2 separate regions of the Homo sapiens genome follow, and region 1 is linked to region 2. Evidence: fine-mapped expression QTL. Tissue or cell type: whole blood. Region 2 holds a variant in brackets; the other region holds the start of a gene. All regions are shown on one strand. Distances are from middle to middle.

The links. PIP is the estimated chance that this variant, and not a neighbour inherited with it, causes the effect.
Region 1: it holds the start of PPARA, and the variant in region 2 is fine-mapped to the expression of PPARA in whole blood (TOPMed, PIP above 0.99).

What each region holds. Positions count from the first base shown.
Region 1 is chr22:46,146,862-46,155,034 of GRCh38, forward strand. PPARA (peroxisome proliferator activated receptor alpha) reads left to right here and starts at 3,665. Exons shown (of 9, transcript NM_005036.6): 1 at 3,665-3,791; 2 at 5,027-5,109. RefSeq lists silencers at 3,126-3,735, 3,886-4,005 and an enhancer at 4,216-4,405.
Region 2 is chr22:46,116,425-46,124,597 of GRCh38, forward strand. No RefSeq gene overlaps it. Among named protein-coding and RNA genes, the nearest start is that of MIRLET7B, 6.8 kb to the left of the region's middle. The variant G/A (reference allele first, on the strand shown) is at 3,145.

The sequences.
Region 1 (8,173 bases), 30 kb after region 2:
AGCAGTTTCTGGACCTGCGGAAGCTTCCAGATCCTGCAAAGCTAGAATGGGTGCACAGCTTAAGCCCCTCCCCACCACCTCAGCTGTGACCACTGGTTAACATGTAGCATGCAGCACTTGGTGCTAATCAGATGGAGTCATGCCTCTGCTGACAACCCTCCATGGCAGGTGTCCCACAGCCCTTAGGACCAAAGTTAAACTCCTCACTGGGCTGCAAGACCTGCCTGGCCAGGGCCTTGCCCAGCTCTGCCCGCTTTGTGCCATCTCCACACTCTCTCCCCTTGAATGTCTCCTGCCACAGGCTTCTGCACATGCTGCTGCCACCCCCCTGGAGCTGTGGGGCCAGGAGCAGCCACCAGGGAAATCTGATCCTTGACCCTGGGCTCCTGAGTCTGCCAGAGGCTGCCGTATCAGCCAACAGACAGCTTCTGCAACAGACAACCGAACCCCGGGGGTACCCAGGGCCAGGTGCTGATGGACTGGGACTCGGGAGAGTTCTCACTCCCTGCCGGGGACCTTGGCCACATGCTGCCATTCCTGGCCCTTCGTTCCTCATCTGTAAGATGAGCATAAGCACAGCTGCCTTGTGGGACTCTTGTAGATTCTGTCCCCTAGTATGACAATACTTTGTTACCTTGGACCCATGGGGTTTTGCTGTCAGTACCAGGATGGCAACTAAGGACATGCCCATGGTTGGCCCTCACCGACGAGGTCCAGCCTTGGGTCGCCAAGCAGCCGCCTGCTCGCTGCCAGTGAGCCCTCCCTTTCTCAGCCCACGGCCCCTGCCCCGGTGGACTTCCACCACCTGACCTGCAGGCACGCTTCCAGGAGCTCAGAGGCCACTGCCCTGGCGGATGACACCCTGGAAGCACACACTCCCCCTTGACAGAGAGCTTTGCACATCAGCAGAGGGCAAGCCAGCAGCAAACTTCGCAGGCCCTGGCTGGCAAACAGACTCCAGCCTGGACCCCAGGCCCATAGGAGAAGCTTCACCCTGGCAGGGTCAGGGAAAGCACTGGGGTCCCTGAACACAGATGACCGTCATCACCTGCTCCCAGCACTCAGGGTCTAACTGCTGCCCTGTACTGAGCGGCCAAGCCCTATCACTCCAGGTTGCCTCCTCCAGCAACCCCTTCCCGTCTGAATTCCCAGCTTCCCAATTCTTTCCCTGAGGCTGTGGGAGAGCCTCGGCTTCTCTGGCTGGCTGGCAGGTCAGCACTTGCAGGAGAGAGCAGCTCAGCAGGGCAGACGTGGGCTTTACAGACCTGCCTTCCGTCCTGCGCCCTGCCGCTGGCCTGGGGGACCCAGTGCAGATGGGGCTTCTCTGTGCCTCAGTCTCCATCTTGCAATGTGGGCACAGTAATAATTACCCTCAGAACATCTTCCGGATCAGAAAATGTAAAAAGGGACCTGAGACAGCATTGTCACCACATAAATGGTAGCTATGAACTAAGATCCATATGCACCAGATGCTCCCAGTAGTCACTAAGGCGCCAGAGAGGAAACTCAGGTGGTGCTCAGAGACATTTTCAGGAGCACTGATTTGTCCTCAAAGTTACAGATTTCTACTCAGTCCCTGCGCCAGCGGTGTTTCTGTTCTGTCGTGTGGCCCTCATTTCATCAGCACTGAAGAAGGTAAAGAGAGACTTCCTGGAGCTGGGAATGGGGGTGAGGGTGTGCCCTTTGTGACAGTTGCTCCCATGCTGGGTGTGTGACAAGGTCTTCGTGGCCAACAGAAAATTGCTTCATCTCTCTCATCTGAGCGTGGTTTCCCAGAAGAAACCTACCACCCCCGGGAAGCATGGATATGGGGCTGTTTCTGGCCAGGATACTCCCAAGAGAAGAGTCCTGAACTTGCTTCTACCCTCAGGACGCCTGCGGGAGACTGGCTGACAGCATTTGATTGAAAATGCTTATTTCTGGGACACATGGATGAAAAACAAGTTTTCTCTCCCTAAAACCTTGGGAGCCCCAAAAAACCCAAGAATATCACTTTCCTATGTCTGCTGAGTGTACGTGACCACTCTGCACACCCCCACATAGCCTTTGTCCTTGTTCATGAGAATGTTCACTAGGTCTTTCAACACCTGGTTGACCTGGGTGGTGCATCTGGGTCACACACCTGTGTGGACCCTGGTCCTTGAGAGTCTGGGATATGGGTATGCCAGGTAATGTCTTTGAGCCCGGAGGTCCTCATGAGGATGTAGCCCCTGAGCTCTGCGTGGGCAGCCCAGGGTCAGCTTCCCTCACCAAACACAACAGGATGACAAGCTTGGATGTGGCTGCCTGCACACCCCACGAGATATGCAGGATATTACGTGTACAGGTCACCCTATAAACTCTGAAACAACATAAATGATAGCTATTGCTGGCTAACATGTGCAAGAGAAGGTGAGGTTGCCGTGTGCCAGTGGGAAGGATATGTGGGTGTCTGGAGGGTGGGGCAAAGTTCACCATAGGTGCCTGGCTAATCAACAAGGGTGAGTTTAAGAGAAGTTTGTGAAAGGGCCAGTTCCCGCCTGATCTCCAGTTCCCCTGCCTAATGAGATCTGGGTTTGCTTTCCGGAGTGGGTCCTCCTGGGCGCCCGCTGCCACAAATAGCACAGTGGCAGGCACAGCTGGCAGCGGAGGGCAGGCAGTGGAGCGGGCATAGCACACATTGCGTTCCCGAGGAGGGGAGCCCTGATGTGCCGGCACCCAGGGGCTTTGTGCATTCCGCTCCGGCAGCTCGAGCGTCACGGCCCGAACAAAGCGGCTTTGCAGGGCGCTCTCCTACTCCTCGCCATTGGCCACCGGGCCGCGACCTCTCCTTGCTCTGGCAGAGTCCCAGCGCCTTGCGTAGGCACAAAGTCAGCCCCTCACCCCCCAGCGCATGAAGTAGGGGCGGGCATGGCTCTTGGGCCGCTGGAGAGGGGTGGGGTTGTGGGGTCGGAGCTGGCGGCGCCTCCCCGAGCCCGTCCGCGTTGCCCTTCACCCTCCTCGTTCCCCCGCCCACCACACCGCCCTGGCACCTCCCGCCACCTGTTTCCTTGTCCTCCCAGCTCGCCTTCCCCTTCTCCTTATTTTGCATCCTGGGGTTCCAGGGACAAGGTCCCTCCCGGGCCGCCTCCCACCCTACGCACTTCTGAGCCTCAAGGGCACCCGGTCCCGGGTCCCGGGTCTAGACCGGCTCATCGCACAGAGTAGCAGAGCCGGGCTCATCGAGGAGGCAGGAGGGGCTCGCCAGCGTGGCACGGGCGCCCGGCGGGAACCTCCACCCGCCCCGCGGCCGCGCGTCCCCGCCTCGAATTCAGCCCCGCCCCGGTGCGCCGGGCTGGAGGGGCGCTGACGCTCAGCGGTGTCCCATCGGTGACCTTGGACGGTCCCTCCACCTCTCCGGCCTCAGTTTCCCTTGGCTGCAGCGGCCGCGGGGCGCTAGGTGGGAGCCGCTGAGCGCTCCCGGGGCCCCGCCCACCGCGAGCAGCCAATCGGGCGCCGCCCTCCGGGGGGTGTGTCCCGGGGCCGAGGCCCGGGGCCCGGAGGGCGCGCGGGGCGGGCGGGGCTTCCGGGTCGGGCCTCGGGACACTGGCTCGCGCGGACCGGGGCAGGGGGCGGGCCGAGGGGCGGTGCGTGTCGCGGGGGCGCGGCTGGCACGGACGCGCGGAGGCGGCGCCGGGCATGGGCCGTGGACGCGGCGGCCCCGCGGCGGGGGCAGCGGGCGGCGGGGGCGGAGGCGGCCGCTAGCGCCCTGCCCGGCGCCGCCTCCTTCGGCGTTCGCCCCACGGACCGGCAGGCGGCGGACCGCGGCCCAGGTGCCCGGGGGCGGGCGGGCGGGCGGGCGGGAACGCGCGCGGGGGTCCGCGGTCCGGGCTTCCCAGGTCCCGGGACCCGGAGGGCGGCGGACGGGGGAGGGGCAGGGGCTGGGCGGCGCATGCGCGGGGCCCGGGGTCTCGGGGTCTCCGGGTCCCGGGGACCCGGGGGCCCGGGGTGCGCGGCTGGGGACCTGAGGGCGAGGAGCGAGGACACACACCGAGGACTCTTGCGAGGGATCTCGGGGCCCAGCTCGGCCTCCCTCCTAGCGCTGGGGGCCTGCCCGGAACCCGAGTCCGCGGCTGTCCCTGGGGTTTGGCGCTGCGCGGAGGTCGGGTCTGGGGACCGCAGCGACTCTGGGTCTTCGGGTTGTCCCCTCGGAGGGAGGGCCCACGGGCGGGGACATCGGGACTTGCCCTTTCCTCGGCGCAGCGGAGCTGGGGCGTCGCCGACTCAGAAGGTGCTTTCCGAGACCTCCAGGGATCTCCGAGGCGAGGAAACCCGGGCCCCGGACAGACCGACCCTGGGTGGGTGCGCCCGGCTTCTGCCGTCGGACGGAGACGCGCGTGTTTGTTCCTCCAGCTGCGACCACCTTTGAGGAACGGTTCCCACTTTGTGCCCCAACGCGGCGGGGCGACCCCGGACAGGCTGCGCTGGGCCGGGTGGCTTCTCTGCGGAAGCCGCGCCACGTCGCTCCCGGTCGGGGCCGCTGAGGGTCGGGCGCCCAGGTCTTTCCGGAGTCCCGGGCTGCGCGGCCCGCGTGGTGCGGGTGAAGCTGGAGGGGCGCGGGGTGGTGCCAGTGGAAGTCAGGAGGGTCGGCCCTGCCCCCTCACGCACCCCAACCGGGCACAACTGCACGCCTGTGCTTTTCTGAAGTCTTTTTTAAAAGTTAAAAGAGAGGAAGTGTGCTCCAAGTGTCAGGATTCTTTCCAAGAAAAACCCACAGTTGTCCAATGGCCTGGGCTTCGTGGGACCTCCGGGGCTGCACGCCCACGTCAGCCTCAGCCGACCCCTGCCAGGAAACCAGGGAGGCCCCTCCTCTCCCAGCCTCCTTGGGATAAGGGTGCCTTGGGGAACTGGGTCAGGGCAAGGACACGGGATTTTCCTGGGAAGGACCCTGCGACACCCGTGTCGTTGCGGGGCAGGGTCAGCATGACTTTCCTCTTCCAAGGTGAAGAGTTGGGGGGCATCCAGAGAACAACCGTAATCACTTCCTCCTTCACCTTCTTACTGCCAGGCTGAAGCTCAGGGCCCTGTCTGCTCTGTGGACTCAACAGTTTGTGGCAAGACAAGCTCAGAACTGAGAAGCTGTCACCACAGGTAAATAGAAGGTTTAATTTACTGTTTCCAGATGGAAATATTTAAGTGTTTTCAGTGTTTACTTCTGTTGCACTACAGACCAGCAATCTGGGGGTTATTACTTTGTGATGCAAGGTTAGATACGTTTTCAGACTGAAAGTAAAATACATGTGCATGGATTCATTTTTTTTTTTTTTTTTTTTTTTTGAGACGGAGTCTCGCTCTGCCGCCCAGGCTGGAGTGCAGTGGCCTAATCTCAGATCACAGCAACCTCTGCCACTGGGGTTCAAGCGATTCTCTTGCCTCAGCCTCCCGAGTAGCTGGGATTACAGGCGCCTGCCACCATGCCCAGCTAATTTTTGTAGTTTTAGTAGAGGCGGGGTTTCACCATCTTGGCCAGGCTGATCTTGAACTCCTGACCTCATGATCCACCTGTTCCTCCCAAAGTGCTGGGATTACAGACGTGAGCCACCGTGCCTGGCCTAGGATTCACTTTGAAGTTCTGAGTTATTGTGTGACTTTTGCTAGGAACTTCATTGCTTCGTGGCAGGCATGTTTTGTATAATTTAAAACTTGATGACATTAACTTTGAGAAACGTGAGTGCTTACTAGACCCTTGGGATGTCCACACTGACTGGTACCGAGTAGTGTACTGTCTCTGAGCTGTTTTCATTTTGATTTGAATATTAAGCAGATGGCTTCTTGAGATAGACCCGTGCCAGAACATGCCAGGGATAGGCTGAAGAAACGGGCCAGATGATACAAATTTGTGTGGTCACCATCCATGAGAGACCAGGGACACTGGGGCTGATGATGACCTCTGCAACTCTGAAGCAAAAGTAAACTAATTGGCAAGTTGGGTGCGGTGGCTCACTCCTGTAATCCCAGCACTTTGGAAGCTGGGGTGGGCAGATCGCTTGAGGCCAGGAGTTCGAGACCAGCCTGGCCAACATGGTGAAACCTTGTCTCTACAAAAAAATAGAAATATTGCCTGGGCATGGTGGCGGACATCTGTAATCCCAGCTACTCAAGAAACTGAGGCAGGAGAATCGCTTGAGCCTGGGAGGTGAAGGTTTTAGTGAACTGAGATTGTGCCACTGCACTGCAGCCTGGGCGCCAGGGCGAGACTCCGTCTCAAAAATAAATAAATAAAATAAAATTAATTAACTAATTGACATTAGAAAAAAATGTTTTTTCTTTCTTTTCCCACATCCTTTTTTTTTTTTTTTTTTTTTTTGTGACAGAGTTTTGCTCTTGTCACCCAGGCTGGAGTGCAGTGGCATGATCTTGGCTCACCGCAACGTCCACCTCACGGATTCGAACAATACTCCTGCCTCAGCCTCCCGAGTAGCTGGGATTACAGGCACTCACCACCACACCCGGCTAATTTTTGTATTTTTAGTAGAGGTGGGTTTCACCATGTTGGCTGGGCTGGTCTCAAACTCCTGACCTCAGGTGAACCGCCTGCCTTGGCCTCCCAAAGGGCTGAGGTTACAGGTGCGAGCCACCGCGCCGGGCCCTTTTCCGACATCTTAAACGTAAAGTAGGAGACGTGTCATAATCATCGAATACTGCAGTGGTTTTCATTAGCTCCTGTTTGTCAAACTTATGAACAGAGTTTTAAAAATTGTGTATCAGCCGGGTGCGGTGGCTCACACCTGTAATCTTTGGGAGGCTGAGGTGGGCAGATGACAAGATCAGGAGTTTGAGACCAGCCTGGCCAATATGGTGAAACCCTGTCTCTACTAAAAATACAAAAATTAGCTGGGCATGGTGGCGGGTGCCTATGGTCCCAGCTACTCAGGAGGCTGAAGCAGGAGAATCTCTTGAACCCGGGAGGTGGAGGTTGCAGTGAGCTGAGATGGCACCACAGCACCCCAGCCTGGGTGACAGAGCAAGACTCCGTTTCCAAAAAAAAAAAATTGTATATGAGAGAGACAGAACTAGACAGAGAAGAAGGAGAAAATGTGTCTTCTTTATACACTATTTTGTAACTTGCTTTATCGAGTAGGTTATGAAAAATCTTCCTATGTGAAAAACATTTCTGCATCATTTGAAATGTCTATATAATATCCCATTGTGTTTAGATACAATAATATTTAGCCAATCTCTTTATGTGTATATATTTAATACAGTCATTCTATAAATATTGACTGAGTAGCTGCTGTGGGCTACTGTCCGCAGTGCTGAACAAGACAAGCATGAATCCATGAAACTGATTTTCATACCAGAATATAAAAAAGAAACTTAAAGATAATCCTCATCATGGTAAAAGATGAAGAACCTATTTTTGCCGGGACATCTTACTCTTTAGTAATTGGTGGCCAGTGTTCTTTTTCTTGCATGCTGTTTTGGAGAGTCTGTTTTTTAAATAAATATTTAAGTAGCCTGGGCGCAGTGGCTCACGCCTATGGTTTCAGCACTTTGTGAGGCCGAAGGGGATGGATTGCTTGAGCCCAGGGCTTCAAGACCAGCCTGGGCAACCTGGCGAAACCCTGCATCTACTAAAAATACAAAAATTAGCCAGGTATAGTGGCGTGTGCCTGTGGCCCCATCTACTTGGGAGGCTGAGGTGGGAGGATCCCTTGAGCCTGAGAAGTGGAGGTTGCAGTGACTGAGATGGCACCACTACACTCCAGCCTGGGTGACAGAGTGAGACCTGGTCTCAAAAAATAAATAAATATTTATGTAATCATCTTTAAGCAGTGTTTTTAATTTTATTTATTTATTTATTTATTTTTGAGACAGGGTCTCACTGTGTCACCTAGGCTAGAGCACAGCTGCATGATCACGGCCTATTGCAGCCTCGACCTCCCTGGGCTCAGGTGATCCTCCCACCTCAGCCTCCCAAGCAGCTAGGACCACAGGCACACGCCACCAGGCCTGACTCATTTTTGTATTTTTTGCAGAGACGGGGTCTTGCTATGTTGTTCAGACCTGTCTCAAACTCCTGGGCTCAAGCCATCCTCCTGCCTCGGCCTCCCATAGTGCTGGGACTAAGCCATGAACCACTGCACCCGGCATAAGTGGTCTTTCTTTAAAAAAAAAAAAAAAAAAAAAAAAAAAAAAAAAAAAAAACCACATT
Region 2 (8,173 bases):
GGAGGGCCACATGCCCTGCCAGGGAAGCCATAGAGAGCCCTGCCCCGGGAGGTCAGTGCCTCCTTCAATGCCTGCGATCCCTCACCCTGCCCTGCTTCCCCCACCATCCGCCCCGCCTGGGCAGCCTGGGCCACTGCCCGCCAGCCACCCCCGCCTTCGGACTGTGCATTTCCCGACAGCGACACCGTGTGGCAGCAGCCCCCACCTCCGAGGCCAGCCCCGCCTGCACCCCCCCCCCACCTCCGAGGCCAAAGCTGTGAATAGGGTGACCCCTTCTGGGCTGTGGAAGCCTCGGGTTTGAGGACAATCCTGGGGAGGGACCCCAGGGCGCTTCCCGCTCTCCTGGCGTGTGTGTGTTTGCGGGGGAGGTGTGGGGGCCTCTGTACCCATCACAGCCACGTGCCGGGACCGCCGGCCATCGTCCCGAGCCAGCGACATGCCTGGCAGCCTCCCGCCCACCTACGCCCCGCTCACCACCAAGGAGCTGTCAGCATCACTGCCCCCAACGGCATCTGGCAAAACTGTTGGGGGTGAGCCAGAGGGAGCACCCCCGTCCCCAACAGCGCTGAGTTGAGAGCCACATCTGTCTCCAGGCACTGCCACCAGCAGGAAGGGAGGCCACCCTGAGCCTGGGAAGACTCCGGAGCTGGGTTATCTGAAGGCCGGGAGTTCAGGTGGCCCCAGGCAGAAGAGGTGGCACAGTGAAGGTCCACACATGGGAGGCGGGCGGAGTGGCTGAGCCTGAAAGTTGGCATCTGGGCCCACCAAGGACAGGCCTGCCATGTTTGAGCCCTGAGCTGAGCCTCCCCAGAGCCTGGGGGGAGGCTGGAGCCCCAGTGAAGGGCCTCAGATGCCAAGGAGGGAGGTCAGGCCCTAGGGCTAAGCCCCTGGCACAGACTCATACCCACACAGTGGCATTTAGTGAAATGGGCTCCTCTGACGTTGCCTCCTGAAACAGGCAGGGTCGGAGGGGTCAGGTCTGATGAGGCCTGGGGGCATCCCTGTGCCAGCTGGGTGAACATGGCTGGTCACTGTCCCATTCTGAGTTCAGCCTCTTTCTAGAACAAGAAGGGAGGTGGCACCAGCCAGGTCGCACATCTCAGATATCGGACAACTGGGGAGCTGAGGTGGACCAGGAAGGGGAAGGCTTTCAGGTCTGGCTTGCTCAAGGGACTCAGCTCCTACCCCGGCCCCAGCTGTTGCTGAGCCTGAGGGCAGGTGGTGCTGCCAGGTGCCTTGTGTTGGCCTCCCTGCATGCGTCCTGCCTGGTGGCCCAAGTTCAGCATCCACACTTATGCCAGCCAGTGCCCTATACCACCCTCACCCTTCCAAGGCTCCCACAGCCTTCAGGGCTGCCCAGTGTGAGAGCTGCTGTGAGTCTATATGGGTAGCTTGGTTTCTCTGATTGGGAGCAGCTTCCCCAGGGCTGGGAGCAGGACCCAGACAGTTGCTGTAAATGCTGGTGTGTCGGCCCCTCTGGTGCTGCATTGGTGACATCCAGGGCCTGATCTGCTTCCTGACAGTCCCCAGAGGGCCGCCATCCTCAGCCCATTTCATGAATGTGGAGACAGAGGCTCAGAGAGGTAGAGTGACTTTCCCAAGGCCACACAGCAGGCCGGGTACAGCTGGAATGGGCGGCCAGCTCTGTCCACCCCATGATCTGTGGCTGTCTTGCCTTCCAGGCTGCCTGGGGTTGGGAGAGTAATGGTGGCATAGGGGACAACAGGTTGTGTTCTGGGGTCCCTTCCCTGGGGCCAAGGAACTGGGCCAGGCCCAGGGCCCTGCCAGGTACCTCGCTTCCAGCCTTGTCCCTGAAGGTCCTCATGCAGGAGAAAAGCAGCCACCTGCACACCGCTGTCCGGCCTCCCCAGAAGGAATGCGCTCCCCCCTCAGACTTGACCTGGGTTCAAACATGGCGGGCCTGTCCTTGGTGGGCCCGGATGCCAACTTTCACCCCTCTCAAATCCTGGGCATCCAGGCTTTGTCTCCAGCCAAGCCCCAGGCAGGCAGCACTGCCTGGACAGGCAAGCAAGACATACTGGCCCTCCTGCAGTCCCCGGAAATAAAACAGAGAAGAGCAGCCCTTCCTCAAGAAGGCCTCACCCCGTCCCTCCCCTCTTCTCTCCCCTCTTCTACCCCTCTCCCCTTCCCTCTACATCACAGACCCAACAGCCTCTCTCGCCAAGCCCATCCACCCTCCTTCCTCCCGCTCAGCCTCCAGGGCTTCTGCCCATTTCCTGGGTCAGCCCCACACAAGTCCTGGCCCCGAGTAAAGATACCATATCCAGGCAGGCGCTGTGGCTCCCACCTGTAATCCCAGCACTCTGGGAGGCTGAGGCAGGCACAGCGCTTGAGCCCAGGAGTTCAAGACCAGCCTGGACAACATGGCAAAATCCCATCTCTACAAAAAAATACAAAAATTAACTGAGTTTGGTGGCTCACGCCTGTGGTCCCAGCTACTCGAGAGGCTGAAGTGGGAGGATCACCTGAGCCTTGGGAGGTCAAGACTGCAGTGAGCCCAGATCGTGCCACTGCACTCCAGCCTGGGTGACAAGAGTGAGACCCTGTCTCAACAAATAAATAAATAAGTAATACAGTTGTCATATCCTATGGAGCAGCTGGCCTGGGGGGTCTGGGTGTGGTGGGGAAGGATTTGAAGGCAGATGCTGGGGGACAGCAAGGGAAGAGAAGGGGGAAACCCAGGGAGGCAGCAGGGGAGGGGTGGCCTCCAGAGGAAGGAAGAAAGGGGGAGGGGAGGCAGCAGGGGAGGGCAGGGGAAGAGTTGTGGCTGGTGCTAGGCCTGGGGTGAGTGTGGGAGGGGTTCACCTGGGCAGACTCACGGGAGGTGCATTCCAGGGTCAAGGAAGGAGTTAACAGAGCCTGTCAGAGCATTCGGGGTGCCGGGTGGGGAGGGATGGCTGGTCCCCGAGTGAAGAAGGCCAAGCTGTGTCCACAGAGGTCATGGTGAGCCCAGGAGTCCAGGAAGGGCCCAGCCAGGTTGTCCACCGCCCCTGCCAGGCCAGAGGAGTTGAGGCTTTGGGTAGCACCCCGCAGGCCCAGCAGTAGAGCTCATATGGCCTGGGGTCACCTCCGGGGGGAGGCACCCTCCAGTGCCCAGCCAGGGGCAGGCTGAGTGCGGGCACC[G/A]GAGAGGCCAGCTAACAGCAGGAAGCCCAGCCCTCGAGTGATTGCCCCCTGCAGCCCTAATACATGACAGAGGGGCCTCGGGGTGGCAGAAGGAACACAGGCTGCAGAAACCACCCAGCAGAAAGGTGGCAGCCAGCCGTGAACCAATCCCATGGCCCAGGGCGAGGCCCTTACCCTCTCTGTGTCCTTATCCAGGCTGAAGACAAGGAGACCTGGCTCTCATGGGTACCACGAGGTCCAGGGGGCAGCAGGCAAGTGCCCTGCAAATGCCAGCCAGGGCAGGCCAAGCAGACCAACGTCCTGAGATGAGACAAGACCCAGCCTGCTCAGCACCCCGCAGTCTGGCCTCCTCCCCTAGACACACAGGGCTGCGCCTGACCCCAGGCCATCAGCAGGCGGAGGCAGGGGGCAGTGGGTGGCAGTGAGGGAGGAGACCAGCCGCTCCCCTCACCCACTTTGATCTTCTCCATCAGCTGCCAATGCCCTCAGCCCACGGAGGAGTGAGTTCCTGTGGCAACGCAGGCGGCCCAGTGTCCTTTGCCACGAGGGAGAATGCACGCTGTGGGATCTGGGGATCCGGGGGTGTCTGTGATGGGGTGTTTGGGGCTGTGCTGCGGGATGGGGAGGAGTCTGAGGAGGCGGGGCTCTGGGTTGGATGCTCTCAGGACGCAGGATCGTCCTCCGATCAGCGATCTTCACAAGCCCTGTCTCCAGGGCAGGGAGCCCAGAGCGAGGCTGGAGCTGCGATTGCTGACGTGGCTGCAGTCCCCCTGCTGCCTGGGCCAGGAGAGGCTGGACATTCTGTGGCTTGGATGGTGTTCATGCTGTGGTCTGTGCTCAGACGTGATTATGAAGGGGGTTTTGATTTGTCCTGACCCTCACAGTCCCAGAGCTGATGCAGATGCCCGCAGGTGGACACCCAGGGCCGGTCATGTGTCAGGTCTCGCCTGCCAAGGCCGCTTCCCCTTCCTCCGCCCTCCCTGGTACATTCTGTGTCTGCCTGTGTGAGCCCTGCCCCATGTGCCCCGTTCACTAGGCTGTGAGCTCCAGCAAGCGTGTCTTCTCAGCACCTAGTCCAGCACCCAGCACACAATAGATGGTCAATCAGTGCCCACTGAGGCCAGGCACAGTGGCTCACACCTGTAATCCCAGCACTTTGGGAGGTCAAGGCGGGCGGATCACCTGAGGTCAGGAGTTCAAGACCAGCCTGGCCAACATAGTGAAACCCCGTCTCTACTAAAAATACAAAAATTAACCGGGCTTGGTGGCGGGCGCCTATAATCCCAGCTACTCAGGAGGCTGAGGCAAGAGAATCACATGAGCCCGGGATGTGGAGGTTGCAGTGAGGTGAGATCATGCCACTGCACTCCATCCAGCCTGGCAACAGAGAGAGATGCCATCTCAAAAAAAAAATGCCCACTGAATGAACAAACAGGTTAGAGTGAGGACTCAGTCAAGTTGAATAGGGTGGAGCCTAGCACCATGGGGAAAGTGGCAGAGGGGGCTGCAGGGCAGGCCAGCAGTGGGGGGAAGCCCCCAGGGGACCCTGGGGACCCAGGCTGAGGAGGTAGCTGGCTGGCTGTCTCTCTCAAGGGCCTGGGAAATGCTCTTGGATGGCACGTTTCCTGGACAGATGATCCACAGTTGCTGCTCACGATGCCCTCTTGGAGTCACGCTGTGGTGAGCCTATTGAAGGCTCTGACAAGGCCTGCAGGGAGGAAACAGGTCCGTGTGACTTGGTTTACCCACAGTTTCCCAGGCTAGCCTGACTGTACCAGCTCTGGCTTTTTACGTCAGACCAGTGGCTGTCCCACAGTGCAGGAGCCAACACAGGGGTGCAGCCCGGCCTGGCAACCCTGCATTGGCCACCATGAAGGGAGAGGTGTTTGTGGGGGTATAGAGCTCTGAGAGGGTGGCTGCCAGGGCTCAGGCCAAAGGATGTGCTCAGATGACAGTAATGACCAGGGAGTGTTGGAGGTGTCAGGTTTGAGAAGCTATTGAAGGGTGACATTGCTGGGACCTGGGGACCAGCTGGGGCAGAGGCAGGGGTGGCAGGGAGGCCCAGGTCTCTCTAGGTGGGTGGGTGGATGGCCACTGGGACAGAGGAGCCAGGCTGGGGAGAGGTCTGAGCAGGCGAGGTTTAGGACCTGTCATTTGTGAGGTGCCCCAGGGACTGACCTTGAGGGCTGGAGGCCAGGCCTTTGCTGCCAGGGGAGCCACCTAGACCCACCCTGCGACACCAGACTCAGTAGCTGCCAGTACCCCCACCCTCCCTGCCCACCCTGCCCTAGGGGCTTCCAAAGAGAGGCCTGGCTTTCTTACTGTCTCGCCTGGGGCCCTCAGAGTCAGAGAGCACACCTCACAATCTACCCCCATGGGACTCAGCGGGCTCAGGAGCAGCAGAGGGAACAGCAGCCAGGCCTGGGACAGGACTTAGAGCTGGGCAGTGCTCTGAGCTGCTCCATGAGGCTGGCTCAGGGCTGGGAGCTCCGAGGACAGGCGCTGACACGTGGTCGTTGGTGCTGCCGCTCTAGGCAAAGCTCTGGGCCATTGTGGGGTCCCCCTTTCCCCAGCGAGCTGGGCCTTGGGCCTGGGCAGGGCCTGGCTCCTAGGTGTGAACCCCAGACCTGGTCTCATTTCCTTGCTATCAAGAGTGAGGCCACTGTCTCCTACAAAGATGCTGCCGAACATGGGCCCTGGGACCCATGCTGGGGAAGCAGGCGGGACTTGCCAGTGCTCATGGCTCCCAGGCCTTGGCGTGGCCAGGGCAGGTGCACCGAACCTCAGGCGCTGGGCTCAGTCCTCCGTCCTTGCATGGCCAGGCCCCCACATCTCCTAAGTCACTTAAGCCCAGCTGCAGGCGCTGGACAGGCGTCAGGAGCCCTGACCTCTGCCCCTACTCCAGGCCCTGCCTATCTGAGGGACCTGGGGAGCTCCTACCCCTCCCTGGCCTCAGTTTCCCCAAGCTTACAGGAGGACATTGAGGGTCTGGGGATGCTTTCCACACGGTTCTGGTAGCGGCGGCTTCTGGCTTGACCACCAGGTGGCGCCTGGTGCCCAATGAAGCACGTGGGGCTGGGAAGGGGCGGCCGCGTGGACACCGCCCCGCTGAAGAATCAGTGTCCGGGAGGCCTGGCCGTCCCCACACCGGCCCGAGGCTGAGCGGCCCTCGGGTCAAGAGCACAGAGGTGGTGGGGTGGGTGCGCAGTGTTTCCAGCACCGGCCTGGCCACCATCGCAGGGGGGCATCTCCGGCTCGGACAGCCATATCCCCCCCGGGCGGGCACAGAGCTGGGTACGGCTGGGGGCTGTGGGTGGAGGGGTGTGTAGGAGGCCAGCCCCTCACCCCTCCAGTGGGGTTGCAGGAGTTCTGCCAGGCTGGGGTCTCACCCCACCTCCCTCTGTTCTCGCTTCCACTTAGCCCTGGGCTCTGCTATCCTCTGCCTCTCCCAGCCTCAGTTTCCCCATATGTAAAACAGGTAATAATCCCACCCCTTCTGTGGGTGGGTGAGGCTGGCCACAGGCCAGGCCAGGAGGCCCAGCACATCCCCCTCCTGTCAGCACCGCCCTCTGCTCCCACTGCCCCAACGGTGGTGCCAGCCCCTGCACACAGGGTATCCCCACCAGGGCCGCCTGCAGAGCGGAGGGTGCTGCCCCATGCCCGGCTGCAGAAGGTCGTGTGGCCCGAGGTCACACCTAGCAGATGAAATGGCAAGAGACAGGAACAAAGAGGAAGCCCCGTGGTCTGGCACTTGCCGGGTGGCAGGAGGCATCTCTAGGTGACTCACATGATCCCATCTCATCCCAGGAGAGACCGAGGTCCAATCTCCCATCCTTGTGCTCTAGATGAGGACACGAGACCCAGAGACATGAGTCCAGGTCACACCGTGGTGTCCCCCAGAGACAGGGGCCTTCCCTGCTCCCCCCTTCCCTTGGGCCAGCCATAGGAGTGCGAGGCAGTAAACACTGTTGCCTGTTGCGCCCAGCATGGTGACGGCTGGGTGACCCTGGGCAAGTCTCCAACCTCGGGGAGACATCCTCAAGAGAGTCTCGGGGAGATCAGGGGCAGACAGCAGCAGGGAGGGCCGGGGTGTGGGAACGGCTGTGGGAGGGTGGGCAGGAGGCCCTGGCAGCTGGTGGGAGCTGGGTTCCCAAGGGCAGGGGAACCACCAGCTCTCCCAGCTGGACCGACCCATGCCTCAGTGAGGGGCAGGTGGCCCAAGGGTGAGATTGCCCCATCAGCAGTGGGCAGGGTGGCTGCTGGCTGGCACAGCGGGAGCCTGATGGCAGGCAGGGGAGTGGGCTGGGAGTTGCGGCCGGGCCTAGTGGGCTCTGCTGCTCTGTTCTGACCCTGATGTCCTGGGCCGAATCCCAGCCAGGGCAGCCTTGTCTGGAGGTGATGGGCGGGGCCGTCTCACTGGGCCTGGGGGAGGTGGTCCTGAAGTGGTCAAGGTCAAGGCCAAGGCCACTGCTGTCCTGCCCAGCGCAGGGCCCAGTCCCGGACAGGGTCTACTGGCCAGAGACACCAAACTGCTGGAGCCAGAGGGACTGGATGGCAGGAGCCCTCCCCAACCTGGCTCACAGCCTCAGCTTGATCTCCCCTAGCGCTGAGGGGCTCCCTCTCAGGGACAACCCTCTCCCTGCAGCCTTCCCCTGCCACCCTGGAGGACAGGGCATCTGGCCGCTGCTCCCGGGAGGTCCTCGCCTCAGACAACCTCCTGCTGGCCCCGTCCTTGGCTCGCCACTGCCCTGGGCCTTCCATCCTGTCACCCCATCCCACCTGCCAGCTTCTGCTCACACCAACACCAGGCCTGGTGTTATGCAGGGCTGCCTCACAGACTGTGACATCTGACCTCCCCAACTTAATGATGAGGAAACTGAGGTGAAGGGAGGCAGAGAAACCTTCCCAAGGTCCCACAGCCTAGAAGATGCCCGTCAGGAGCGCCCGAGGCCCCGACACACTTGCACAAACAGGCACACCCAGCCTCACCTCCACCAGCCCCAGAGGCTTCCTGGCCACTGGCTGTCCT